Linked DNA regions of Homo sapiens. The protein of the gene in region 1 interacts with the protein of each later gene in a pairwise test. Each region holds a gene or a part of one and is shown on either strand. Other genes may lie near its edges. The genes, in order: TCL1B, PLEKHA3, MEIS3 and MARK1.

Region 1 (7,033 bases):
ACATCGATCTATTTTTAAGAAAGAAGGGGAAAAAATACTTACTAAGTAGGTCCCTTATCCCACCCGTGGCTAAGTTATTTGAAGAATCCATTCTATTTCCACTGAATCATTTAAAAAAAAAAAAAATCTTAACTGTTTTTTTTGTTTTGCTTTGTTTTGTTTGAGACGGAGTCTTGCTCTGTCGCCCAGGCTGGAGTGCAGTGGCTGGATCTCAGCTCACTGCAAGCTCTGCCTCCCAGGTTCAAGCCATTCTCCTGCCTCAGCCCCCCGAGTAGCTGGGACTACAGACGCCTGCCACCGCACCCGGCTAATTTTTTTGTATTTTTAGTAGAGACGGGGTTTCACCGTGTTAGCCAGGATGGTCTCGATCTCCTGACCTTGTGATCCGCCCGCCTCGGCCCCCCAAAGTGCTGGGATTACAGGCGTGAGCCACCGCACCCGGCCAACTGTTTTTAAGAGTACAGTTTGGTGGCATTAAGTGCATTGACATGTGGAACCGTCGGCACTATCCACCTCCAGAACTTTTTATCTTCCCAAACTGAGACTCCGTACCTGTTACTAACATTAACTTCCCATCCTCGACTCCCTCCAGCCCCTGGCAGCTACCATTCCACTTTATGAATGAGACCACTCTGAGTACCTCATACAAGAGAATCTGTCCTTCCGTGACTGGCATATTTCATTTAGTATAATGGCTCCAAGTTTCATCCGTGTGTCTGACTTTTAAGGGTGAATACTTCATGGTTTGTGTTGTTTACCCATTCATCTATCAATGGACACTGGGGCTGCCACCACCTTTTGGCTAGTATGAATGATACTGCTGTGAACATGGATGTATGAATACATGCTTAAGTTCCGGCTTCAGAGTCTTGTGGGTATATATCCAGAAGCGGCATTGCTGGATTATGCCGTAATTCTTTCTTTGAGAAATCCTCATCCTGTTTTCCATAGTGGCTGCACCATTTTACAGTGCCCTCCATTAACACTTTTTCAGGCTTTTGAAAAACTTAAAATATTTGCTCCACAATTTTTGCATGCTTTATTTAGTGTATGTACAGAAAAGCCTTTCCATGTTCTCTACCAACATTTTTTGAAATAACCTATTTGAACTTTTTTTAGGAAATGTGTTATATTGTTTAAAGTGTCAGTGAACTGGCTGGGCGAGGTGGCTCACCTGTAATCCCAGCACTTTGGGAGGCCAAGGTGGGCAGATCACTTGAGGTCAGGAGTTCAAAACCAGCCTGGCCCACATGATTAAACTTTGTCTCTCCTGAAAATAACAAAAAAAATTAACTGTAAAAAAAAATCGCCTGTAATCCAAGCTACTCGGGAGGCTGAGGCATGAGAATCACTTGAGCCTGGGAGGTGGAGGTTGCAGTGAGCCAACATCACACCAGTGCACTCCAGCCGCAACAGAGCAAGACTTTCTCAAAAAACAAACAAACAGGCAGTGAATTGTTTACGAAGACCTAAACGGCATTTTTTTTTTTTTTTTTTGGGACGGAGTCTCACTCTGTCACCCAGGCTGGAGTGCAGTGGTGCGATCTCGGCTCACTACAAGCTTCGCCTCCCGGGTTCACGCCATTCTCCTGCCTCAGCCTCCCGAGTAGCTGGGACTACAGGCGTCCACCACCACGCCCGGCTAATTTTTTGTATTTTTAGTAGAGACGGGGTTTCCCCATGTTGGCTAGGATGGTCTCGATCTCCTGATCTCGTGATAAGCCCATCTCGGCCTCCCAAAGTGCTGGGATTACAGGCGTGAGCCACCGCGCCCAGCCCTAAATGGCATTTTAAATATCCGGATATGCTTTTACCACATTACACTAAGGTACAGCCAGCCCCCCATTTCCATGGATACTGCACCCATGAATTCGACTAACCTCAGATTAAAAATATTTTGGGAAAAAAAGAAATTCCACAAAGTTCCCAAAAGCAGAGCTTGAAGTGATGTGTAGGTGTAGCATTAGGTGTTATTAGTAATCTGATTTCAAATATAGTAGAGGATGCGCTGAGGTTATATGTAATTACTACCCAGGTCATTTTCTATCAGGGACTTGAGCATCCACAGTCGGTCCTGGAATCAATTCCCCACCGCCACCCACACCAGAAACGCTACTGTATTTACTTCATCCCTCAAAGACTGGCTGTGATCTAAAGCCCTCATCTACAGCCGTTTCCTGAGTCATTATCATTATCACCTGGGGAGCTTTTGAAAAGTAAAGAATCTAGGACTCCACCCAAGCCTCCTGAATTAATTTCCAGAATCTGTTATCAGTCAAATGCTTCCCCAGGCCATTCAGGCGGTGAGCCATGTATGTGAGCATGTCTGTGACTAGCTTGCCACAGAGGTATATTATTCTCATTTTGCAGATCAGTAATCTGACACCAATGTCATGTTCATCCTGTTGGCCCACCTGGTGCCTCCAGGCTGCAATGCTTTTGCTTATACTACTCCTGCCTCCTTTCTAGACCTGGAGAACTCCTACTCATCCCACAAAGCCCAGCTCAATAGCTGCCCCATTTGTGGGCCTTCCCAGCAGGCACTGGGAATGGCACTAAGCCCTGAGCTACCTTAGCCTCGGCTTCACCACGCAGGACCACATTATCTCATGTGGATAAGCTTGTGCCTGTGGTCCCTTTACGGGGGGTGTTCCTGGGGCCAGGGCTGGGCATGGACATTGCTGCGCTCCTAGACCTGCACAGAAGTGAGTTTTCCAGTGCGGGTGAGAACGGCCCCCTCTGACCCCCACCGCGGTCCCACACGGGCAGGGGTCAGTGCGCAGCCCTCCCCACAGCCTCCCCTCGTGCCCAGGACTCACTCTGCTGCCCTGGGAGGCCCTGGCCCATTCCCTACGCGAGGGATTGAACCGCACGACCACAGTCACCCAGGTTCTCCCCTCCTCATCTTCGTAGATGCCAGGCCTCTGGATCCACAGACGGCCAGGGGGCACCCCTAGACGCACAGAAGCTTCGGAGGCCATGGCAAGTCTGCAACCGGGACCCGCCTCTAGGCTCACACGTGTAGCTTTCCAGCTGCGCAATCTCCTTAAATGGAGCAGCTCCGGCGTGGGTGGGGCCCGGGCCGGCAGTGGGGGCGGGGCCGGCAGTGGGGGCGGGGCCAGTCGGGGGAGGAGGGGGAGGAGGAGGAAGGGGGAGGAGGGAGGAGGGAGGAGGGAGGAGGAGGAGGGGGGAAAAAAGCAACCTGCAGCAGGGGCTAGGCAGGGACGAGGCCAAAGAGCAGCGGAGTTAGGAACCCGGCCTGGGTCTCCTGGAGGGGCTGTGGCTGGACCGGCAGCTGCTGGAGGCAAAAGGGCGGCTCCCGGGGATAGAGCTGCCCAGGCTTCACCCCAGGCCTCTGCAAGGAATTTGGCTCCTAAGACCTATTCCACCTCCCTTCCACTGGTCCCAGTCCCTCCGCAGCCTCCTCCCTGAGCACCCCTGCCCAATTTTCTGTCAGGTGATTCCCCTCCTTTGCTCCCCACGACCCCCTGCCAACCATCCTGCCCCAGATCCTGAGCTGGCATGCACGACCCTGGTCTCTCCTATCCCTGTGGCCATTCCTTTAACAGGACTCTGTGTCAGGGACCCTTCTCTGAGCTTAGAGCTTAGAGGCATGGGGGGCGGGGGGCGCTGTAACCTCAGTGGACTCTTGCCCCTGGAGGTATCTGGTGAAGGCGCATCCTGCACAAATCAAGCTCCCTCTCCTTAGAAAATAAGCCAGTGCACTATCAGCATCTGAGCTCAGGATCAGATAAAGCCCACAGAAACAAGGCCACCGGAGGCCACGTGGCCACCTGGCCAGCCCATCCTTGGCCATGGGGCCCAGAGTGCCCACTTGGCCTGGTCGTCTTACTTGCTCGACTTTGTCAAGAGGCCTCAGAAGCTCAAGAACATAGCAAGAAGCAGGTCCGTTCTATAAGCACCCTGGGCTGCTTCTAAATGCACCATGAATAGGAACCTTTTCCTTTTGAAAACCACAAGCATGATTCTTCTAGTTCAAGTGAAGATTAGTATTGAGATGATGCCATTCTGCTGGGGAGATGTGAAAATGATTTCTGGACAGTCCTGATCCAGTGTAAATGGCAGGTAGGATAACCACTTTTGAAGAACTCCCTGGGCAGCTTCTGTGGAGGACTGAGTCTTGTTTTCACAGCAATTCCACCTCCATCCCCAGTGTTTTTCCAAGGAACCAACACTTGGGGTGGGAATGGAGTGGGCCAGGAAGACAAGGGACATCACAGTCTCATATAATGTGATCCATACATGGAATCACGTACGTGTGTCACCTTTGCCATATTCCATTGGTCAGGGGTAGGTCCTATCCTTACTCAAGGTTATGAATACCAGGAGGCAGGGATCATGGGGACCCCTGGTCTCCTGGGCCCCCCTGAAGCCTGTTTGCTGTAGGTACCTACCCTATGGGACTCCTCTGAGGATCAGATGAGGCTGTGTGTATAGTGTTAAAGCCTGACACATAGTGAATACTTGAAATACCCTGGTCAATAGTTATGTTCTCAGACTAGTTCCCTCTCCCAGGCAGAATCCATCATTCCTACCCTTGTAACCCCAATGCAATTGCTATTTATCTCTATCATTTTCTGTTGCAAATATATATTTTGATATTCTCAACCTCACTCCCTGATGGGCAGGTGTGTGGCTGTCAGTGGGGTTGGAGGTAAAGGTTGCCTAATATGTGGGGAGCCCCTATGCCATGTCAGGCATTTTTCATAGGGTATCTCACTAACACCTCCCAACAACTCCATAAACTAGAGACCGTCACCCCCATTTCATAGATGAAGTATCAGAGGCTTGAGTGGCTTAGCAACCTGAATGAAGTGGGTAGCAGAGGAAGGATATGGACCCAGCTGTTCCTGGCTCTAACATGCATGCTGCTTGTTGACTGCCTTGGCCAAGTTTGGCTCATTACATGGAAGAGGCAGAACCTGGAGTAGGGAGATCCACAGTGGCTACTGTAGAAATGGTGGTGGGGTCTGAAGATGGAGACTGAGAACACCTTGCCATGAGTGGGTGGTCAGAAGGTAAGCAGAGGTCTCCATAGGCAGAAAGAAATAACTACCAGTTAGCCTCAAGGTGGAAAATAGATTGCTTCACCGATCACCCTCTTTGGCCAGGTCTCCCATCCCTCAACCCTTGGACCTGGTATGAAAAAAGCCACGGAGCTGCAGGTGACAACAGTTTGGTTCCTGGTCCTTCAGCTGGTCTTTGTCCATGTCATGTCTGAGATAAGTGAGATAAGGCTATGTCTTCTGGCCAAGTTGTCCATCTCTGGTACCTGTGACCTGAAGGATTCACTCTCCGGGGTAGGTGTCACCAATGTCTTTGAGAACCACTTTGATCTCTCCAGAATTGCTCCCAGGATTGCCTGGTACTGATGGTGCACTCATGCCTGGGCCCAATGCTCTCCTCCTCCAGCAGAGGGAGCCCTTCACAAGCCCCAAGCCCTGGGGACGTTGAGGCTGGACACCCACTTGCCGGAAGGATTCCAGACCACAAACAAGGAGGCGCTGTGCAGGGCTTGGAAGGCTGGGTAAGAGTCACTGATACCTCTGCACATTTCTGTTCAGCTCCTCCTAGGTACTGGGCCAAAATGGCAGGGCAGACAAGATGCCAAAGGCAGACAGCCTAGACAGGGCATGGTTTAGATGGAACTGGCAAAGTTGTCCCACCGAGTAAGCAGCATGAGTAGACCTGGAGGAGAGGTAATTCAGGGTGTGTCTGGAGATCAGGAATAATGAGGATTATCCAAGCTCATATGATAAAGAATAAGAATGTGGTGGTGGTGGGGGCAGGGGTGGTATTGATGCTCCATTGTAAGCATCAAACACGCCAGTCCCAGCAGCTGGTTTTGAATGATGAGCAATGAGTGTTTGAGACAAGGAGTGACATAAGTATGCACTTAATGTTAGAACTAATGATAAAACCAAAGAGTGGCTTAGTATCAAGTAGATCATGACTACTAGAGAAAAGACTGGATGGGGATTGTGCAGATAATAACAAAAACAAGAACATCCAAGTTCCAGCTCTGCTTATTTCAGACAGTGAGCAGAGCAAACTTGCAAAGTGGTAAAAGAAAGTCAACCCAACCACGGAACTGAAGAATGAGGGTTTAGGAAAGTTTTGCTTATGTACACTATTTTCTTCTAAAGATTTTATTTAGATTAATTTTTCCATGTTGATATCCAATTAATGCCAATTATTTAAAAGACTATGCTTTGTCTACTGTACGGTATTATCACTTCTGTCATAAATCTGGGAACATTTATGTATGAGTCTGTTTCTGGACACTTTTCTATTCCATTAGTCTGTTTGTCTCTCCTTGTGTTGATACCACATTGCTAATTACTATAGCTTTAAAATAGGTCTTTATATCTTATTGTAAGATTCTGTTTCTCTGGAGAACCCTAATATAGCTATTCTCTTCCCTTTACATATCCATATGCATTTTAAAATCAGCTTGTTAATCCTCCCCACCTCCAAAAGCCTGCTAAGATTGATTGGGATTGTGTTGAATCTATAGGTATATTTGAAGAGAATTAACATCTCCAACATATTAAGACTTACGATCCGAAGCAATTGCATAGTGTATCCTTCCATATTTTGGGTTGTCTTTAACTGTTCTCTCTGATTTCATTAAATTAACTCTTAAGTATTTGATTGATGCTATTTTAAATGTCATTTCAAATTATGTATTATGTTTGTTGCTGTTATAAAAAAATGCAACTGGTTTGTGTGCATTGACACTATATCTAAGACCTAGATAAATTGACTTAACTCTAATAGTTTATCCACTATTTGAGGAAATGTCTTAGCCATTGTATCTTCAACTATTCCCGTCTCATCCTTTCTTTTCCTCCCTTTCCCTCTCTTTCAGTGACTCCAATTACACATTGTCAGACCCTTTAAACAAGTGTACCGTGCTCTCTATGCTCTGTTCTTGTTTTGTTTCCTTTTTTTTCCTCTCTGAGCTTCAATGTTGATGTTTTCTATTAGTTTATCTTCCAGTTCACTAATG
Region 2 (7,028 bases), on another chromosome or scaffold:
GCCAGGATGGTCTCGATCTCCTGACCTCGTGATCTGCCCGCCTTAGTCTTCCAAAGTGTTGGGATTACAGGCGTGAGACACTGCGCCTGGCCCATTTTATGTATTTTTTAATACCATCTTACAGGACTGTGGTGTGGTGTTGAGTAAAACATAGTTTGACAATGTTGCTTTTTAGGACAATTGTAGATATGCTATAAACTGTTAATTAACAAGTATGTGTGAACAAAGAAACCAGTGTTTTGAGATGGATGTGTAGTGCTGTGTTCCTGAGGTTGATAGACAAAGGGTACACTTTTTTTTTTTAAGCTGTACTTTTTAGAGTCAAATGCAGTAAAACACCTCAGAGTTGCCTTGCTTCTGCATTGAACTTCTCAGGAAATCCCTTATGTTACAAATGCTCTGTAGTCCAGAGAAGTCAATGCGTATTTTACATATAAGAAACTAAAATAATTATTAGTTCTAGAGACAAATAGCATGGAAAGTAAGGTCAGACAATCTTCATGTTTTTTTTTTAAATAACATTGTTTATTTATTTATATGAAAAACTTACATTTATTTATATGAAAAATAAAGCTGAAAATTTGAGTATTCCAAAACAATTTAATCTGATCTTTGTAAGTGCTTTAATCTGATCTTTATAAGCACTTTATATAGTTAATCTCAATGAATTCATCTTAGAGTAAACTTGCATTTAACTTTATTTCAAGTTGTCATAAAAGTTCAGACAACCATCACTGGACCTACAGATTGAGTGATTATTATAGTGGGGATGTCCTTGGGTTAGTAAGCCTAAAGGAAGTAATTTCTGTTAAAGGAGATGTTAGTGGCCATTTGCATCTTAATGTCAATCTTATCAGATGTTCCCAGACTACAAACTGGGTGGGTCATATCTCTTAGCATTTCAACTGGTATTTCTCAGAGCAACTAGTGGCTCATGTTCCAAATATAGAAGGCATTTGCATAACATCAATGTTAGACCTGGGCTTGTTAGACTCTTGGGCTCATGTATACAAAAGCAACCACCCTAAACCTTTAGTATAATCTTTGTTTTTCTGCTACCATGTTAAACTTTGAAATAATCAGTTTTACTTGGCTGCCTCCCTTTATATTTTGATGGAGTAGTTGGATCTTCCAAATTATGTTTAGTATTTATCATATTTTTTAAATGTTCTGCTTAATTAGGTATTCTTTATTTTTTTAAATATATGTTTTGGAAATCCACTGAGACTTAGGGTTCTTCTTCTGAGTTCTTTAAAGTCTTGAATTATTAATGCTGTTTTCCATGAAAACCACACTTTAGAACATTTGTATATCAGCTACCTAAATAATTAATGATAAAGAGAAGCTTTGCTGCCAGACTCTACTACTGTCCTTTAAAAAAGAGATATTTATTAGAATATTTTGTGGCTTGCTAGATACTCCTTTTTTATCACATTTATATCTTATTTATAGTTATATACCCTGTTTTTTATATTTGTATACACACACATATATATGTATTATGTATAAAATTTGGTTTTCACTTTTGAAAAAAGAATCCAGCATGTTTTTGGTGTGTGTTGAAAAAGATTCCAATTAATGGTTATTAGGGAGAAAGCTTGATGTTGTACTAATTATGTTGCTTGAGTCTGTGAAAGATTAAATTTTTTTTTGCCAGTTATCTTTTTCTCTGAGTAAATTTATGTTTATTATGATAATAGTAAATTAGAGCTGCATGATTCTACTTGACATATGGATTATGCTAATTTTTTTTTTTTTTTCCAAAATTTCTAGATGAAGCGTTCTGTCAGCCACCCTGGTTCTTGCAGTTCAGAGAGGTAAAAGAACCTTTTCTTCTGACTAAGTTCTCTCAAATTATATCCATCTAGGGAAGTTCTTTGGGCCTTTAACAAGTGGTGTGGAATGTAAACTCTGTATGGGTTAGGTCTGGTTCAAAACCAGCATTTTATCTCTCAGTATTTATCTCCTAGTATTTAGTATAAGGGCCTGGCCTCAGTAGGTAGTCAGTAAAGAAAAAAATGAATGAATTAACCAGCAAGGTAAGCACGTTGCCAGCCATTTTACCTTTTTTAGATGTTTGAAATGCAGTCATATATTGAAGAATGACTTTTCCATCAATGATAGACTGCATATGTGACAGTGGCCTCATAAGATTATAATACCATATTTTTACTGTACTTTTTCCATGTTTAGGTATGTTTAGATACACAAATACCATTGTTACAGTCACCCACAACATTCAGTACAGTAACATGCAGTAGAAGTTTGTAGCCTAAGAACAATAGGCTATACCACATAGCCTACATGTGTAGTAGGCTATACTAGCTAGTTTTGTGTAAGCACGCTCTGTGATGTTTGCACAGTGACAGAATCACCTAGCGATGGATTTCTCAGAATGCATCCTTGTCATTAAGAGACGCATGACTGTATATCAAGTGATGGTTAGACAGAAGTACATTTTTGATGTGTTGAGACTCCACAGCTAGGGCTCATTTTACCTCAGCTGTTTATAGCATCATCTATTCATGCTGAGCTGTTGTTTCATTAAGAGAGAAAGATCTTGCTGAAGAGAGAAAACCACTTGATATTTTAAAGTACATATTCATATCAATACGTTTAAAAATTTTACCTTCTGGATAGATCTTACCAAAATGCTAAGTTGTTAAACTATTATTTTGTTAGGTAATAGTCCTTTAAGTTGCTATGGTTGTCTTATTTAGTTCTTTGGAAAGTGATTTAATTATAGTGACATTGGCATTTATTTCTCTATATTTGGACTGTTAAATGCTGTTTTGTCATGTTTTAATTTTTTCCCCTGATGATTGTATAATCTTTGATTAAACTGTCAAATACTCAGAGGAATCCAATGATGTATATATCCAACCTTGTCAGGGAATCAAGAGTCCCACCAACTGAATTTTCCAGAAAAATGGAAGCTTAATCAATTTTTGACCAACTTTTATTTTTATGAAAGAAATTTTTCTATCCTTTCTACCTCATAAAATAATAATTTTAAAATCTTATTTGTTTCCTGATGAATCAAGGTTGTCATTAAGTACAGTAAAGTTGGGCTGTTACAAAAATAGTAGCTGAGATGCTGTTAGGTGGTGGTGATTTGCTTCTCTGTTTAAATTTTTCAGACAGATTTTTAAAAGAGTTTTTCTAGGCCCCTTTTTGCCATCTTTATCTTCTCTTGCTGTTGTCAGTGAGTCTACCTCTAGCTCTATGAACTCCTTGCCCATCTCTTTCAGTCTGCTGGTTTTGATCAGATATGGATTGACTTAAAATACATGCATTCATGAAACCTATGACTTCTAGTTTTCAAACATTTGTAAACCGACTGATATGTCTGCTCTCTGGAGTCTCCCCTACAGAAGTCACTACTTCTTCATTGTACCCCTCTTCCTTTTAGTTCAGCTCAGAAGCCATATTCTCCAGGTTACCAGCTGTCTTCTAAATGGGTTCACTTGTTTTTGACTTCTGAGTAGAATGTTGCTAACACGGGACGTTGAGCATAAAAATAATTCTTTTTTCACTTAAAGAGAAGTCATTTAAAATTCCAGTTGAGTGTGTTTTTGTTTATGTAAGGCCTTACAATTTAATGCTTTTTACTTAATTTGCAGGAGTAGCCACTCTATAAAAGAACCAGTATCTACACTTCACCGACTCTCCCAGCGACGCCGAAGAACCTACTCAGATACAGATTCTTGTAGTGATATTCCTCTTGAAGACCCAGATAGTAAGTGACATAGATTCTGTCTCTTTCTTTGGCATATTCAGCAAAATTACTGTGGGGCTCTGTAATTTCTGGAAATGAAGTATACTGACTGAACATTGTACTTTGTTTCTTTGATTCCTTAATTCAGAGGTAAGCAAACAGCGCTCAATCAATGAAAGCTCATATATCCCCTTACAAACAGGTTTGTTACTAACTAAGGAGTGCTGAGGATTGCTTTGTAAATATCGTATCTCAGATATATATTTATAGAATATCATGATCTTTTACCACCACTAGGACTTAAAAAACATTTTAGAAGAAGGCATGAATTGTTAGCAGGATTCTAGGGGAAAATAAAGGCAAGTTCCAAGTTCATATAAAAGTCAGCATTGTTACTTTACTAAAATACCTAGAAATGGCTAAGGAAAAGAATTTTGTCTGGTAGTCACAGTGAATTATAGTAGCATTCATTCCTCTACCTTTTTCTTCCTTATTAAAGAGGCAGCATACTGTGATTGAATGTTTTTAGGAAAGGTTTTGTGATTTATGTTAAAATTTTTAAATTTTTCTCTTCAGAGAAGAAGCTTTGAAAGTGTGTCAGAATATCTAGTAAGATAGTAGTGACCATGATTTGCAGTGAACACAAATATAGTCTTATTATTACATCTCCATTAATAGACTTATACTCTCCAAGTCTCTACTATTTCTCAGGAAGCATGTGGGATAGAAACTATGTACAATTTCCAATTAAGGAACAGGTCGTGTTCCAATAGTTAGTTCATTTGTAAGTCAGTTGTTTGGAAAACAGATTTTATTTTTCTTGTGGAAATGACATGATAAGTGGTGGTTAGCTCTTTGGATAGCTAACCATTCTTTGGAAGAGCCCAGTGAATTCATAGTATGGCTGAAATGGGACAAAACAATGGTGTATTTCTAGCATTTGAGTGTATTGAAAACACTGATTAAGCTGGAGTTGTTTTATGTAACCAGAAAGTTAAACAGGTTTAGTTCATACATATGGCAATTTTAAAAAGGATTGCTGGTCATTTTTGGATTTTTAGGAGTTGATAGAATCTTTTTTTTTTTTTAATGCCCACTTTTTTTTTAAACTGAATTAATCATCTATTTATTAATATATGGCACTATTCTATGCTCATTAACATTTTGAATTTAAATTGAGATGTGGGTGGAGAAATGAAGGAAAGAAACCGGGAAGGGGAAGGGAGAAAGAAACTTTCTTGGGCCAATCAAGCAAGACCTGGAAGAGAAGAGGAGGAGAGGAGGAGGGTTAAAGAGGTTGAGTATGTGAAAAAAGTTATCTGAGGCAGGTAAGATAGACTCTGATTCTCTTTATTCTTTATGCCTTTTACACATGACTCTTAATCCAGAGTTCATGAAGGAGTTCTGTATGCTACCTTGTAGTTTTAAGTGCGACATCTTTTTTTTTTTTTAAGGGGATCATTTGTGATTACTAAAATAATTTTTTTAAAGCCATCCATTTTTCTTTAGAATTCTTTTCTTCTAGTTACTCTAGTCCTGAATATTTGAAAACAATTTTCAAAAGATCTAGGTGTACATGCTCTATTATATTTAGCATCCCCCAGTTTAACTGTTATGGACTGTAACAAAACTAGTCTCACACACACACACACGCACGCACACACACACACGCGCATACATATAGTTCACTTCTCTAGAACATCTTTAAATTAGCAAGTATAGACTAGGTCAGAAATTTTATCCTTAGATTTTTTCCTGTTTATACTAGTTTAGTGTTTCAATTAGCTGACAAAGCAAAGATTGAATTAGTGCTCTTTCCAGAAAGTATATATTTTGCAATTGGCAGTCTTAGTTGAAAGTTGTTACTCAAAAATATTCTTCTTGTGAGATGCAACTGCTTCTATTTTCTTTAACAAGCTTTTTCAAAAAGTATGAAAGTAATAAATGATGATGGTAAACTCAAACTATATATATAAAGGTACAACTGCCTTAGAACAGGACTATGCCAGTGTAGTCAGCTGTGTTAACATGGAGTTGCAGTGATAGTTCTGTGAGCTGCATTACAAATGGAGAAATGGGATCTTTCAGTATGAGGTACCTTGTCAGCTTTGCTCAGAAAGTCTTAGAATGAAAAGAGGAATACCTGAATTTAGTCCTCGTTCTGTTACCAATTGTGTGATCTTGGGTAAGGCATGTATCCTTTTATGGGTCTTGGTTTCTTTGCCTAGGAACAAGGAGGATATTAACAGCATTAAAATAGGCTGAAAAAGCAATAGTTAATTAATAAAGATTAAATTCAATTCAGCAAATATTTATTGACTACCTATTATGTGCCAACCATGATTCTAGCAGTGAACAAAACAAAAATCTCTACTTCAGGCAATTTCATCATTTATCTTATGAATTCTGATGTTTCTCCTTGTGGCTGTTGATACTCTAGTCTAAAAGTTAAGTTTTCCTGCATGAAACAAACAAGGAAATACAAAATTAGCCAGAAGCTAAAGGAATTTCATGTCCCTGAACAGGAAATTTAAAATGTTCTTTCACAGAGGACTGGAGTTAATATTGACAGGATGTTTAACGTTTTTATCAATGTCTTCATAGGACCTGTTCACTGTTCAAAAAATACACTTAATGGAGATTTGGCATCAGCAACCATTCCTGAAGAAAGCAGACTTATGGCCAAAAAACAATCTGAATCAGAAGATACTCTTCCATCCTTCTCTTCCTGAAGAAACTGAAGTGTCCAACTTCCTCTAAGTATTGCTATGCAAAAGCTGCTGTAATTAAACTATTGTTATAGGGAGTAGTTTTTTCCCTTAGGACTCTGCACTTTATAGAATGTTGTAAAACAGACAAACAAGAAAACAAACCACATACTTTTGAAGTGTATTTTATCTTTATATAGTTTGTTTGCAAGAGTATTTTCCTAATAACTTCACAGTATGAATGTGCATCTTTTTTTTTTGAACAAATGATGGTGTAACATTTTGACATCCATAAGGACAAATGTAGATATTTTTCTTAAAAACTCTGAGGGGACTGACAGCATGGTCAGGGTGTATTGTAGCTTATAAACATGAAATCTTATAAGGTTTCAGTTTGACAGAAGTGTGATATATGTAACTTGTGCCATGGACCAAATGGTCACTTTACCACAGCTAAAAATGAGTTACGATAGCAGCTTGATGGTGATTGTATTGTATTCCTTTAATCAAAAAGGAAACACAATATTCTAAGTATCTTTAGCCCAAATACCATGACATATTGAGCATCTTTAAATAACCAGACTGTATTGTCCTTCATATGT
Region 3 (6,932 bases), on another chromosome or scaffold:
AGAGGCGAGATTCAAACCCACGTCCGTCCGGAAGCCTTGGAAGTGAGGGTGTGCCTGCCTAACCTGCTCATTTCCCATGGGACAGAGGACGTGATTGGACAGCCACAGCTGGTGAAGTGACGCAGGCGTGGCCCTGAGTCTTCATTCTCCCCTGCACACACATCTCTTGCAGGAATTCTGCAGCTCCCTCTAGTTAAGAGGTGGAGTCTTGGCCAGGCCTGGTGGCTCGTTTGTAATCCCAGCACTCTGGGAGGCTCCCAAGTAGCTGAAACTGCAGGCGTGCACCACCATGCCCAAGCAATTCGTTTGCTTGCTTCGTAGAGATGGGGTCTCACTATGTTGCCAGGCTGGTCTTGAACTCCTGGCCTTAAGTGATCCACTCGCCTTGGCCTCCCAAAGGGTTGGGATTATAGGCGTGAGCCATCGTGCTTGCAGCCGGCCAATCAGTATTCTTATTCGTGATTTACGAGCTTCAAATTGGTAAGAATTTGAAATCTTGGGATAGACACAAGAACTCCAGTTGGTGGCTCCGTGTTTTTAAGACTTTATCATTAAAAAAAAGAAGAAATTAGAGAAGGGAGGTAGGGGGGACAGGAGAGTGAAGGAATCTCTCCAAAATGTCGGATCCGGGCGACCCTCCTTCCCTGACTGCCCAGCCACCCCGTCCCTTCTCTGTCCTGGCGGCGAGGCCCTAGCCGCCATCTTCTGGGGACCAAGGCCCAGGAGCCCAGCTCGGGTCCCAGGCAGAGGTGAAGGCAGAAGTGGGGCTCAGGGCCTGGAGGCCTTGCCGGTGTCCTTGAGAGCCCTTGGATGGGCACTCAGGCCCCCATGTCCCAGCAGGGCCCTAGGGAGGTAGGCATTGAGCAGAGGGGCCTTTGGAGGTGGGGTCCTGAAGCTGGAGGACCAGGCGGGAACCAGAGGCAGGTGTGAGGCTGGGGGTCACAGCCGGAGGCTGGGTCTGTGGAGAGGGGAGGAGAGGCCAAGTCAGGAGCGGGCAGGGGGCCTGGCCCCACCCCAGCCCATCTGTGCAGGCCTCATCAGCCCCAATGTGAGGGGGACACAGAGAGAGTGGCTGGCGGGGAATGGCACAGGGATGTGGGAGGGTCACAGAGAGAAGAGACGCAGTGACGAGAAAGAGGGAGACAGAGAATCAGAGTGGAGGTGAGGGAGGGAGAGACCTACAGACAGAGACAGAGAACAAGGAGAGAGACAGGCAGAGTAGGACAGAGACAGACCTGGAGGGAGTCAGAGAGAACGACATGGGAAGAGAGAGAAGAAGTCATGAAGAAATAGACGAAATGGAGAGAGAGAAAGAGAGACAGGAGGCTGGGCGCGGTGACTCATGCCTGTAACCCCAACACTTTGGGAGGCAGAGGCAGGGGGATCGCTTGAGCCCAGGAGTTCGAGACCAGCCTGGGGAACAAAGCGAGACCCGTCTCTACAAAAATAAAAATAAAAATTAGCCAGGTATGGTGGCGCACGCCTGTAGTCTCAGCCACTTGGGAGGCTGAGGCCAGAGGATCGCTTAACCTGGGGAGGTCGAGGCTACAGTGAGCCATGATCAGGAGTGGAGAGACAGAAAAGGAGACAGAAAGGAGCAGAGAAAAGAGCCCACTGGGCAGCCAGGCAGTGGGATGAGAAGACCCCTCCATCACTACTGACCCCAAAGGTCCCCTGACACTCACCCCAGACCATCCCTACCCACACTTGGCCATGAAAGAGCTGAGTCGCCCACTGCCCTACCTGGCCTGGATACGCCTGCCCATCTCTCTCCCAGGCTCGGCCTCCAGCACCCGCCTCCATGCATAAGCCCTGTGCAGGCCTCCACTCTCATCCCCAGGGCTTTTCTGCTGGCCCTGAATTCATTAGCCACCTGTCCGGCCGCCTGCCTCAACCCAGTCCAAAGAGAACTTCCTCCTTGTGTGTAGGGGGCTGGGGCTGTCTCACAGCCACGAGATTTCCAAGCTCTCCTGGCCTTGGCACGTGCTATTCCCTCTGCAGATGCTCCTCTCCTGCTTCACTCCTCCCATTCTGCTGGTCTCACCTCCAAAGTCCTCTCCTCCAGGCAGCCCTCCTTGAATCCTCTAGTCTGGGTCAGATGCCCCCTCCTCCAGGAAGCCCTCTCTAAACACCTCCCCCCATCCCAGGTCCAACACCCGCCCCCTGTGAGCTCCTCCAGTTCCTTGGCTTCACCATCCCAGCCCTGCCCGTTCTGGGGCATCACCATCTGGGGATGGGTCTGTCCCCTTCACTAGACTTTGTGCCCCATGAGGGCAGGGCTGAGGCTGTCATGGTCACTGTTGTGTCCCCAACATTACCCAGCACAGGGCTGGGCACAGAGGGGCTCAGGGGATGGATGGACAGATGGATGCTAAACTAAGGAGTTAGGACTTTGTCCAGATGGCACTAGGGAGCCACAAATGGTTTAATCCAGAGAGAGTCAAACTCTGATCTGGGCTTTGGAAACTCTAGGCTGCCTCCCTACCCTGGGCCTTTGCACATGCTGTTCCCTCTGCTTTTGTGAGCAGGGTAGACCTGTGCAAGTGACCTCTTCTCTCTGAACCTCAGTCTTCTTATCTATGAAATTAAAATTGTTAATAGTCTCCCCTTTCGGGATCGTTGTAAGGACTAAATGAGAAGATGCTCTAAAGTGCCGCCATCATACCAGGCCACAGAAGACTCAAGGCCTGGGAAAGTCAAATAATGCCCCCCTTCCACATTACTCCCTACTCTGCCCAGTGGACTCCTATTCATCCTTCAGTGCCCCATCCAGAGGCCACTTCCTCTAGGAAATCTTCCCTGATACCCCAGAGATAGCTGATGACTCCCTCCTATGGGGAAACTACGTTTTATTGTTTGAACTGTTACACTGGATTGTCACTGGGGTTGCCAACTTCCCCACAAGACCAGAATCTTCTCAAGATCCAGACCCTACCTGAGGCATGTCAGGATGGAGTGAGGGCTCAATTTTTTTTTTTTTTTTTTTTTAGATGGAGTCTCACTTTATTGCCCAGGTTGATCTTGGCTCACTGTAACCTCCGCCTCCTGGGTTCAAGTGATTCTCCTGCCTCAGCCTCCAGAGTAGCTGGGACTATGGGTACATGCCACCACACCTGGCTAATTTTTGTATTTTTAGTAGAGACAGGGTTTTACCATGTTGGCCAGGCTGGTCTCGAACTTCTGACCTCAGGTGATCCACCTGCCTCAGCCTCCTAAAGTGCTGGGATTACAGGCGTGAGCTACCGTGCCCAGCCAAGGGCTCAGTTTATGTTTGGAGATGTATCATAGATGAATGGGTGTATGTAGGTATGGATGGATGGATGGATAGTGGGTGGTGGGTGGGTGGATATATGGATAATGGGATGTGTGGGTGGATGGATGGGTGAGTTGATGGGTAGGTGGGTGGAAGCCTGGGTAGGGAGGTGGGTGAATGCACAGATAAATGGGTAGATGTGTGGGTGGTTGGTCAGTGTGGAGGTAGATGGATGAGTGGGTTGGCGAGTGGAGAGATGAATGGAGTGAGTGGGTGAATGTGTGGTCAGATGGGTAATGAGTGGGTAGGTGGGTGGACTAGGTTTGGATGGATGGATTGCGGGTGAATGAGTAATTGAGTAACGGATGGATAAAGATATGGATGGGTGAGTGAGTGGGTAGATGGATGGATACATGGAGGAGGAGGATGGATGGATGGATGGATGGATGGACGGACGGACAGATGGATGAATATCTTCCCATCAAGCCTCAGAGAACCCACAGTACAGGGACCCAGGCTGACCCACTACTCTGGAAGTGCCCACTCTTGGAGTCCTGAGGTCTAATGGAGGTTTGAGAATTGCACAATCCCCAGCCCTTAGACCCTCACACCTCTCCTGCATCAGCCTCTATAGATAATGCCATTCTCCTTCCAAGTTCAAACTCATCCCCACTGATCCTGGAAGACAAAAAAAAAGGAGGGTAAGTGCGTCTTTCAGAGACACCCCCAGATGCCTCTAAGTCTCCCTCACCCCTTCCTACACCAGGGGATCCCTCTACCAGGATAGACTGAGTCATAAGAAGGTGCTGGCCCTTTAAGAAAAAGTGGAGCCTTCCGAGGTATTGGGCTTGAAGTCTGGAAGAAATGAGGTTGTAAGGAAAAGATGGGGGACCAGGAAATCTGCCTTGGCATCACCTGCTTCTCACTAGGCAAGTGACACACTGTATTCCGCTTGAATTGAATCTCAGGTGGGCATCTTTGTTTTACAGGTGGGTCATGGTGCGCAGGGGCGGGGCCTAGCTAAGGGGGCGAGGCTTACCCGGAGGCCGGACGGCCACGTGTGGCTGCGTCTCGGTATAGCCCCCGATGGGCTGGCCCTCTGGGCTGAAGGCTGCACCCTGCCCTGCGAAGGGGGTTCAGAGGTGCAGGCTGAGCCCCAGGAAGCCCGGGACCCGGCTTTGACGCCCTCCTAAGAACCCCAGGCTCTCCGTCCCCGCCTTCCCCCTGTACCTGTGCGGTTGGATTGATCGATCATAGGTTGCACGATGCGTCTCCGGGCGTTAATGAACCTGGGAGGCGGTCATGGAAACGGAGGGGAATGAAAAGAGGGAGTGGGAGAGAGGCCAAGACGAACACAGAGCGGGCCGGAGGACAGCGGCGGGGGAGGCAGAGCGGGGCGAGCAGGGGCAGTGGCTCTGCGGGGCTCGGGGCCTCCGTCAGCACCGCGGACAGCGCCCGGGCTCTCGCCCCGGGCCGGCCCGCGGGCCCTCCTGGGCCACTCACCAGTTGTTGACTTGCAGGATGGTGAGCCCCGTGTCCTGCGCCAGCTGTTTCTTCTGCTCCTCCGAGGGGTACGGGTGCTGCAGCCACCAGCAAGAGTCACTCTGCCTGCCTGGCCGGCCGCAGTCTGAACCCCAAGGTCTGGCCCACCGGGGTCCGGGGGATGGGGAGCCCAGGCCCAGGCAGACGTCTGGGAGAACCGGCGCTTCTGAGCGTCTCTGCGCTCCCCAGGATGGAGACCAAGGGAGCCTCAGGCTTGGGGCAATTACATGCCTGCCAGCCCCCGCCTGTTCCAGCAATTAGAGGTTAACTGGCCAGCTCTGATTAGAGAGACTGTGTTGGGGGAGGGGGCTCCTGTGGCGTGGGGGAGGGGCTTCACTGGCGTCGGGGAGGGAAGCAAAGCCCAGGCCCTCCCTCTCTGAATCTGTCAGAGTCTCTGTGTGGCCCTCTCCCTATCCATTTATTTATTTATTTATTTGAGATGGAGTCTTGCTCTGTCGCCAGGCTGGAATGCAGTGGCGCGATCTCTGCTCACCGCAAACTCCGCCTCCGGGGTTCAAGGGATTCCCCGCCTCAGCCTCCCCAGTAGCTGGGACTACAGGTGCGCGCCACCATGCCCGACTAATTTTTTGTATTTTAGTAGAGATAGGGTTTTACCATGTTGGCCAGGATGGTCTCGATCTCCTGACCTCGTGATCCGCCCGCCTCGGCCTCCCAAAGTGTTGGGATTACAGGCATAAGCCACCGCACCCAGCCCTCCCTATCCATTTCTTTCTTTCTCTTTCTCTCTTTTTTTTAAACAGGGTCTCACTCTGTCACTCAGGCTGGAGTGCAGTGGCGCCTTCATGGCTCACTGCAGCCTCAATCTCCCTGGCTCAAGCAATCCTCCGGCCTCAGCCTCCTGAGTAGCTGGGATCACAGGTGTGTGCCACCATGCCTGGCTAATTTTTTTTTTTAGAGATGGGGTCTTGCTATGTTGCCCAGGCTGGTCTCGAACTCCTGGGCTCAAGTGATCCTCCTGCCATGGCCTCCGAAAGTGCTGGGATTACAGGCATGAGCCACTGTGTCTGGCCCTCCATTTCTCTCTTTGTGGCTCTCACATTCTCTCTCTGACTCACTATCTCTGTGTGTGTGTGTTTCTGTCTGTATCTCTCTCTCTCTCTGGGATTCAGTCCGTCCCTGCCTCCGAGTTTCTGTCTGTCTCTGTCCCTCTGTGACTCGGCCTCTCCCTGTCTCCATCTTGCTCTGACTTGGTCCTCCCCGAATCTCTGTGTCTCTCTGTTTTAGCCTCTTCCTGGCTCTATTTTTCTCCTCTGTCCTTGAAGCAGTATGGTGCGGTGGTTAAGGCCAGACTGCCTGCATTTGAATCCACTTCTGGCTGTGTGACCTTAGGCAAGTCTCCTAACCTCTCTGTTCCTCAGTCTCCTCCTCACCTGTTAAATGGAGATAATAGTAGCCCCTCCCTCCGAGGGTACACTGGGTGGATGGTGGGCAGGTGGATGATTGATGCGCGGGTTAATGGACAGTTTTCGGGGAGGACTTAGTGAGTTAAGTGTCCTGAGCGGCACCTGCACTCAGGTGACACTCAGTGCTGCTGGCTCCTGTCACAATTCTCCACCTCCATGAGAGTCTCGAAAAATTTCCTGCCGTCTTTCTCCCACTTCTGGGTTTCTCTGGGGTTTCGGTCTCTGTGGTCCACCCTTCTCCCTCTCTCCATTCCCACCCTGCACCTGGGCAGCAGGGCTCTCACCGAGAGGTGCTGGAACAACCAGGCTCGCATGATGTTGGTGGCCACCTTGGGGAAGATCCCCCTCTTCTTGTTTCGCCGTCGCTCCTGGTCCAAGTCCTCATCTTCTCCACCAGAACTGGGAGAGGCCACGCTGGTGTCCAGCCCGTCTCCTGAGGGAAGGCAGGCATGCTGTGTGTGTGGGTAGTGAAGAGTGGAGGACCAGAGGGCCCCAGAACTCTCCCCCAAGACAACACTCCACACCCCAGCCATCTCTGCCCCTCTACAAGTCTTACTTGCGATCTAACTTCAATCCTCTGGTTGACTCCCATGTTTCCCTTCCACCTCCCAAGATTCTCACCTTGGTCACTGGAGTTGTCCCCACTCTGGGAGGCCAGGCCCCCACTGGATGGACCTGGGGTCCCCAAATGTACAGACCCACTATCCTCATGG
Region 4 (7,028 bases), on another chromosome or scaffold:
TAGACTTCAAAAATATTAATTACATGCAACACAGAACAATTAGTAGTGTTTTCCTGGTTTTATTTCGCAGGTGGATATCCAGGTAAGGTCAGTGTTTTTATTTAAGATTGAATCCGTGTTTTTAGACTTGCCTACATGGATAGGCTGTTAATTTGCTGTGATATTTTATCATGTGCATGAATTGTTAGCATAACTTCTAAAAGAAATTGCTTATTTGGAAATTGGTGTTTATTTGCTAACTACAAGGTTAATGTATATATTTTCTAAATTGAGCGACTACTAGAATTATACATAATTACAAATTTGAAGTTGAATCTTGCTATTGATAATTATTAAATAGTTTTAACTTTAGATTAAACTAAACCAAAAGATAAATTATGACTTCAAATGAATCATGGCTGGGAATTGGAAGATTATGAAAAAAAAATTTCAAACTTTCACCTCATATTGCCTCTTGACAAAAATGAGTAGACGCTCAATAAATGATAAATTACATGCGGTTATGGTGAAAAATATGAGAAATAGTCTCAGACTGACTAGTAATAGAAAACTGTCATGGTAGAAGTTTGCTCAACAAGCTAATTTTAAAATAATTTTAGATATAGGTTTTCTTGATATATTTTTTACTTTTATCATTAAATCTCAACCTTCACTTTGTTTTGAGGGATCCAAGTGAAGGCGAAGCCAGTGGCAGAACCGACACCTCAAGGTGAGGAGCCACTATTAATACTTCGCTGCTAGGTCCCTGTGTATGAAAACGTACTTTTGAAATACTTACAGCACTTAATGATCATGAATAGATCTAATAACTAGATAGCATGCGTATTTTAGATTTTTATATTGGGGTGGGTTTTCATAATGTTACCTAGCATTCAAGTCAGTCAACTTTAAGTTTGTTTTCCAAACATGCATTTGAATTGTGTACTTGGTATAGAAATAGGCTTTCTGTTCTATAAAGTATGTCAAGCTAAAGAATTAATAGATTAAATGTACTGATATTTTTCTCACTAAAGTAATGTAACTAAAATTAGTCTGAGTCAAATAGCACAAATAACACAGAACAGGGAGATAATTACATGTAGGAAGATTTGATATTAGTAATATATTTTAGGTGATAATTCAGTGTTTGACCACATTTAAAAATTCTATCCAGGCATACTTTTGGGGATTTCTTTTTTTGACATTTCATGCTAGTTGTATATTCATTCTGGCAATGGGTTTCATACTTGAGCACAATCAGAATTACAGGGAAGGCTTGATAAAAAGGTTGCTGGATCCCACTCCCAGGGTTTCTGATTCAGGGGCCGAGGCAGGTGCCTGTGCATTTGCATTTCTATCAAGTCCCCAGGAGATGCTTATGCTGCTGTTCTAGGGACCACATTATGGACATGTTAGTACTTGTGTTCATATTTTACAAACGGGAAATTTAAGAAATGAAGACATTAATTTATTTTGAGTGTACCCAAGCATTAAGGGATGCAATGTAAATTTTACAACCAACAAGTATTCCACAGTATGAAAGGCTCTGGCTTCATTCAGGAACGATTGTGACCAGCTGAACACAAACCTCCAATTTGATTTCTACTTTTCAAGTTACTTAAAATATAAAACATAATTAACTTTGGAAAACTATAGCATTCCCATGTAGTCTTTTTAACAAACTGTGCTATATTTACATTTAGTAATAATAGTTGAAATGTTTCTTTGTAGAGTTAGGTACCTGAGTCACCACAGTAGGGAGCCACAGGGGAGCAAGACAAATATTCTTCACTTTCTTCTGCCTTTTATAGAAACATGGAGGACTTGTTCTTAGCCTCTCCCTCACTTAGTCTTCACTTTTGAGCCCCTCCTTGCATTTCATCCTATATTTCCACTAAATTTCCCTCTGAGACATTTAGTAGTGTGTGGCATTGCAAGTGGCCCTTAATAGTTGCATTTTTGTCCTTTTAATGTAACTATATAATTTTATTACATTATAAGAATTAGTAACTGATATTTTATAAATGTTTACACAATACTTTTCACATTCCCTTTTGTTTGGTTGTTGTTGGGTTTGGTTCTATTTTTGCTTTTGAACTGACTTATTGAATACTAACTATAAAGTACTTTCTGATCATTTAATTTTCACAACAACTAGGTGAAAATGCCTATTTTACAGATGAAAAAAAACAGCAAGGAACATAGGTGGGATCAAGCCAGCTATAATAAGGTTCTGTCATTTCAGGGAGATGAGGTGATACTGTGGTTAGAAGTATAGGTTCTCAGCCAGAGTGCATGGGTTTCAGCTATGTTCCACCACTTACCTTACTGTGTGGCTTTGGGGAAGTTACTTCAACTCTGCGTGCCTCCATTTCCTCACTCTAACTGCCTCATAGGGTTGTTCTGAGGGGTAAATGAGTAATTAATACATTTTAGGCACTTAGGACAATTCCTGCACCTAGTAAGTACTCAATAAATGTTAGCTGTTATTATATTAATATCCACATTTCCAGGAGCTTTCTACAATGGACATTATCAGTGGTAATGTCTGTGAGACCATGCAGAAAAATATTTCATTGTCTTAAGGTCATCTTAAGGTGGAATAGAAGGAAACTAGACTTAGAATAATATCCCTAAATTCTAGTCTTCACTTTTCAACTCATTAGCTCTATAACTTCAGAAAACTAATTTTTTTTTTTCTTCTGAGACAAAGTTTTGCTCTGTTGCCTAGGCTGGAGTGCAGTGGCACGATCTCAGCTCACTGCAACCTCCACCTCCCAGGTTCAAGCAATTCTGCCTCAGCCTCCCAAGTAGCTGGGATTACAGGCGCTTGCCACCACACCTGGCTAATTTTTGTATTTTTAGTAGAGACGAGGTTTCACCATGGTGGCCAGGCTGGTCTCAAACTCCTGAGCTCATGGTCCTGCCACCTTGGCCTCCCAAAGTGCTGAGATTACAGGTGTGAGCCACAGAAAACTAATTTTAAGTTTTCCAGCCATCAGTTCCATCTTTAAAATGAGTGCTCAGTCAACTGATCTCTCAGGACCCTTCCAGGATGCCGATTCCACCAGAATTATACATGTGACCTTGGTAAATGACTCTGGTTGGCTTGCAAGCCCTAAGAGGCCTGTGATGCAATGGCTTAGATTCAGTGGGCAAAAAGAGAAAAATAGAGAACACGATGAAGTAAATACTTTCCATACTTATTAATGGTCTTTGGAAATTTATTTTCTCTACGTATTCCTTTCCTTATTTTCTCAAGATTGCATAGTTTGCAGAGCTTTGGGGACTCAGATACCTAGGCTCAGACACCTGGAAATGAAGTAGATAATATATATAAAATTACACATGAATATATATCATACTATTGATACAAAATGTATATATATTAATTTAAAAGATGTATGCAGTAGATTATAAACTCCTTTCAAGGGACTTTTTTTTTCTTAAATCACATAAGTGAGATAGGTTAACAAGTTGCAATTATAACATCTCTATTTGGATAATTGTTCAAGAAATTTAATTACAGGATTTTCTGTATCACGAATAATCTATTAACTTTGATGAAGCTATGAAGGTTTCTTTCTATGACTGTTTGAAATAGGCTTTTTGTTTCCATATTACTTGGGGGATGCCTGCAATAAGTAAAATTCAGTGAGATTTAGTCATTTAACAAATATGTTAATTATTACTATGTACCCAGCACAGTTCTAGATGCCCGAGATATATCAGTGAATGAAATAGACAAAATTCCTTGCCCTCCTGGAGTTTACAGTCTAATGGTAGATTCAGACAACACCCTAACAAATGGGTTAAATAATATGTTAGAATGTGTAAGTGCTATCAAGAAAAATAAAGCAGGCTAAGGGGGCTTGGCCATGCTAGGATAGGAGTTAGGGTACAATATGAGCAAAGATTTGAAAAAAGCAAAGGAGTTAGCGTCGCAGCCATCTGGGGAGAAGCATTCATGACAGAGGGAACAGTCTGTGCAACAGCCTTGTGGCAAGAACATAACCCGTGTGTTCAAGGAGCAGCATGGAGGCCATTGTGTTCTGATAGGAGTGAGGAAGGAGAAAAATTCTAGGAAATGGGATTGGGGGTAGTAGGAGTTGGAATGGAAGTCATGGGGAACGTTGTAGACTGTTTTAAGGATGTCTTTAGTGAAATGAGAAGTCACTGGAGGACATTGAGATGTGTGGTATAATCTAACATCTTTACCTAATTGCAGTACAACATTCTTTCTCAACCTTACCAGGTAAACGAATTATCTTTCCCTCTGAAGTTACGACATTCCTCCTATCCAAAAAGGCAGAAAAAAGAAATTTTTTATATTTCAAAAATGTATATTTACAAATAGAATATTAGTGGTTCCTATTTTGTGTGTGTGCTTGAACAGAGAAATATGGAACTGAAGAAGGTATTAAGTTCTTCACTTTCAGTTGCAGACTTGTTTCCCTCAAACCACTTATATTTAAGAAAAATGCTATTTTAGATTGACAATATTAAAAGTCAAAACAGATGGCATCTTGGGGTGTGTTTCTGTAACAGCAAGATAACATAAATCTTTGCGTCCATCTGAGGGTGGTCTGCAAATTAGGTAGTGTTATTAGGCACTGAACTATGACCACTTAGATTTTATGTGTGTTTTGATCTCTTTGCTGAGTGAAATATTTGCTTTCATTCTTTCCCTTTGCCCTCTTGTTCCAGAAGTACATCAGGGGAACCAAAAGAAAGAGACAAGGAAGAGGGTAAAGATTCTAAGCCGCGTTCTTTGCGGTTCACATGGAGTATGAAGACCACTAGTTCAATGGACCCTAATGACATGATGAGAGAAATCCGAAAAGTGTTAGATGCAAATAACTGTGATTATGAGCAAAAAGAGAGATTTTTGCTTTTCTGTGTCCATGGAGACGCTAGACAGGATAGCCTCGTGCAGTGGGAGATGGAAGTCTGCAAGTTGCCACGACTGTCACTTAATGGGGTTCGCTTCAAGCGAATATCTGGGACATCTATTGCCTTTAAGAACATTGCATCAAAAATAGCAAATGAGCTTAAGCTGTAAAGAAGTCCAAATTTACAGGTTCAGGGAAGATACATACATATATGAGGTACAGTTTTTGAATGTACTGGTAATGCCTAATGTGGTCTGCCTGTGAATCTCCCCATGTAGAATTTGCCCTTAATGCAATAAGGTTATACATAGTTATGAACTGTAAAATTAAAGTCAGTATGAACTATAATAAATATCTGTAGCTTAAAAAGTAGGTTCACATGTACAGGTAAGTATATTGTGTATTTCTGTTCATTTTCTGTTCATAGAGTTGTATAATAAAACATGATTGCTTAAAAACTTGTATAGTTGTCTAGATTTCTGCACCTGAATGTATGTTTGATGCTTTGATTTGAAAATGTTCTTCCCTGTTATTTACATTCTGGTGGGTTTTTAAAATTCTTACCTCCATCATGCAATTTTGAAAATTGTGTCCAGAATTAAAAGTGCATAGAAATAGCCTTTACAATTGTAGCATGGACCTTTAAAAATTGTTTTAAAATCTTATTTAAATTTAAACCAGAAGCTGAAAAATAGATCAGCTTTATTATACACAAAATTATTACTGCTTATCTTTGCTCTTTTCCTTGTTATCCCGCAAGGTTTAGTTGAGAAGATACAAAATGTTTACAGTGTTGGCACTTAGAGTTTTTAAATTCAAGTACATGAAATTCAGTAATAGCATTGCCTTGAGCTAACTAGGAAGTACCGGGAAAAAAGTTAAATCTACATCAAGTTTCTTTTGAACTTTGAAGTGTTTTCTGACCCACTGCTAACTGTAGCAACAAAATTTAAAAGAAAAAAAACATACTTTATCTGGCTATTATAACATAAACTGTCACGTAGGTTTGCTGCCTTCAGAATACCGCAATTTAATTGCGGGAATATAATAATATTGGGACTGTTTCACAGCACAAACTCATCTTTACAGTGTTGATCAATGCATCAGTTAAGAAATAATGCCACCTCAGGAATTAACTGGCATTGGGAACATTTGCCTCATTCTCCTGCTATCCTCTTCATTCACCCCTGCCACTGTAATATCTATAAGTACTTAAGAGACTTGTGAGCAAAACATACTATTTATAACAGTATATGATTGATTTATGCTTATGTGGTTGTTCAGTTTGTTCCCATGTAACTCGTTTGTTTTAAATATTTTGCCAGATTTCTTGTATTTATTCCACATCATTATGCCTATAATGTGCCGCTTTGTGATTGGGCATTTGCCTACTTTTCTTTCATAATTAGTGATATATGCGATGTAAAACCACTAGTAAAGGTACATTTTAATACTTGTTATTTTATACTGAATTAGCCTTGGAGGTTGACTGTGCAATGTTATTTACTGTTGTAATTACTGTAATACCAACATATGGGCCCCATCTGCACACTCCTGAAAAACAGAAAGTGTATTCAAATTTTATCAGTTTAAAGAAAATAAAGCTGTGATAAATACTGTAATTCCAACCTACATTAGAAGGTCTAAGTGTAGGTGATGTGCCATTCCATAATGGCTTCCAGACTAGGGTGAATTTTATGTTCTGTACTGTACTGTGATGTAGCTTTCTTCTGTAACAGTTATGTTTTAAAATTAAGTGAGTTTTTTTTTTGCCTTAGCAAAGGGTGGTGTTTGAAAAAAAAAATGTGTAGCCCCTTTTTAACCTAGTGTTCATTCAAAAAAAAATTGATGCAAATCTTTATTCACTTTCACTGGTGCACACTGAAATTTTACTTGAACAGTTCTCATAATAAAGCACTTGTCTTTTGCTCTTTATCAGAATGTGAATTACCTGTTTTCTGGTACAAAAGTATTCTGTATGAGGAGTTTATTGTATGTGTTCTAAATTTAGTTGGCAAAGGGTGAAGCTGTGAAGGTTTTCAAGATTATTGAAACTATGAAGGTTTCTTGTCATTATGACAAGAAAGTTTAATCTTTTTATAGGAATTCCTGTCACTGAAATACGTTTTTAAAAAAATAGACTCATGTGTTTTCCAC

What was found.
Region 2: the proteins of TCL1B (region 1) and PLEKHA3 interact in binary tests that used the Homo sapiens proteins (3 or more experiments, as listed by UniProt).
Region 3: the proteins of TCL1B (region 1) and MEIS3 interact in binary tests that used the Homo sapiens proteins (3 or more experiments, as listed by UniProt).
Region 4: the proteins of TCL1B (region 1) and MARK1 interact in binary tests that used the Homo sapiens proteins (3 or more experiments, as listed by UniProt).

Annotation. Positions count from the first base shown.
Region 1 is NC_000014.9:95,682,416-95,689,448, reverse strand, and holds the start of TCL1B (T-cell leukemia/lymphoma protein 1B), read right to left. Parts: upstream 3,024-7,033; 5' UTR 2,982-3,023; coding exon 2,820-2,981; intron 1-2,819. UniProt on the Homo sapiens protein: Enhances the phosphorylation and activation of AKT1 and AKT2.
Region 2 is NC_000002.12:178,497,438-178,504,465, forward strand, and holds part of PLEKHA3 (pleckstrin homology domain-containing family A member 3), read left to right. Parts: intron 1-1,773; coding exon 1,774-1,817; intron 1,818-3,623; coding exon 3,624-3,739; intron 3,740-6,322; coding exon 6,323-6,450; 3' UTR 6,451-7,028. UniProt on the Homo sapiens protein: Plays a role in regulation of vesicular cargo transport from the trans-Golgi network (TGN) to the plasma membrane.
Region 3 is NC_000019.10:47,402,596-47,409,527, forward strand, and holds the end of MEIS3 (homeobox protein Meis3), read right to left. Parts: coding exon 6,841-6,932; intron 6,653-6,840; coding exon 6,504-6,652; intron 5,041-6,503; coding exon of another isoform or gene 4,834-5,040; coding exon 4,757-4,833; intron 4,543-4,756; coding exon 4,484-4,542; intron 4,377-4,483; coding exon 4,293-4,376; intron 3,932-4,292; coding exon 3,882-3,931; 3' UTR 3,865-3,881; exon of another isoform or gene 2,833-3,864; intron 959-2,832; coding exon of another isoform or gene 819-958; 3' UTR 529-818; downstream 1-528. UniProt on the Homo sapiens protein: Transcriptional regulator which directly modulates PDPK1 expression, thus promoting survival of pancreatic beta-cells. Also regulates expression of NDFIP1, BNIP3, and CCNG1.
Region 4 is NC_000001.11:220,657,126-220,664,153, forward strand, and holds part of MARK1 (serine/threonine-protein kinase MARK1), read left to right. Parts: intron 1-664; coding exon 665-709; intron 710-4,686; coding exon 4,687-5,041; 3' UTR 5,042-7,028. UniProt on the Homo sapiens protein: Serine/threonine-protein kinase. Involved in cell polarity and microtubule dynamics regulation. Phosphorylates DCX, MAP2 and MAP4. Phosphorylates the microtubule-associated protein MAPT/TAU.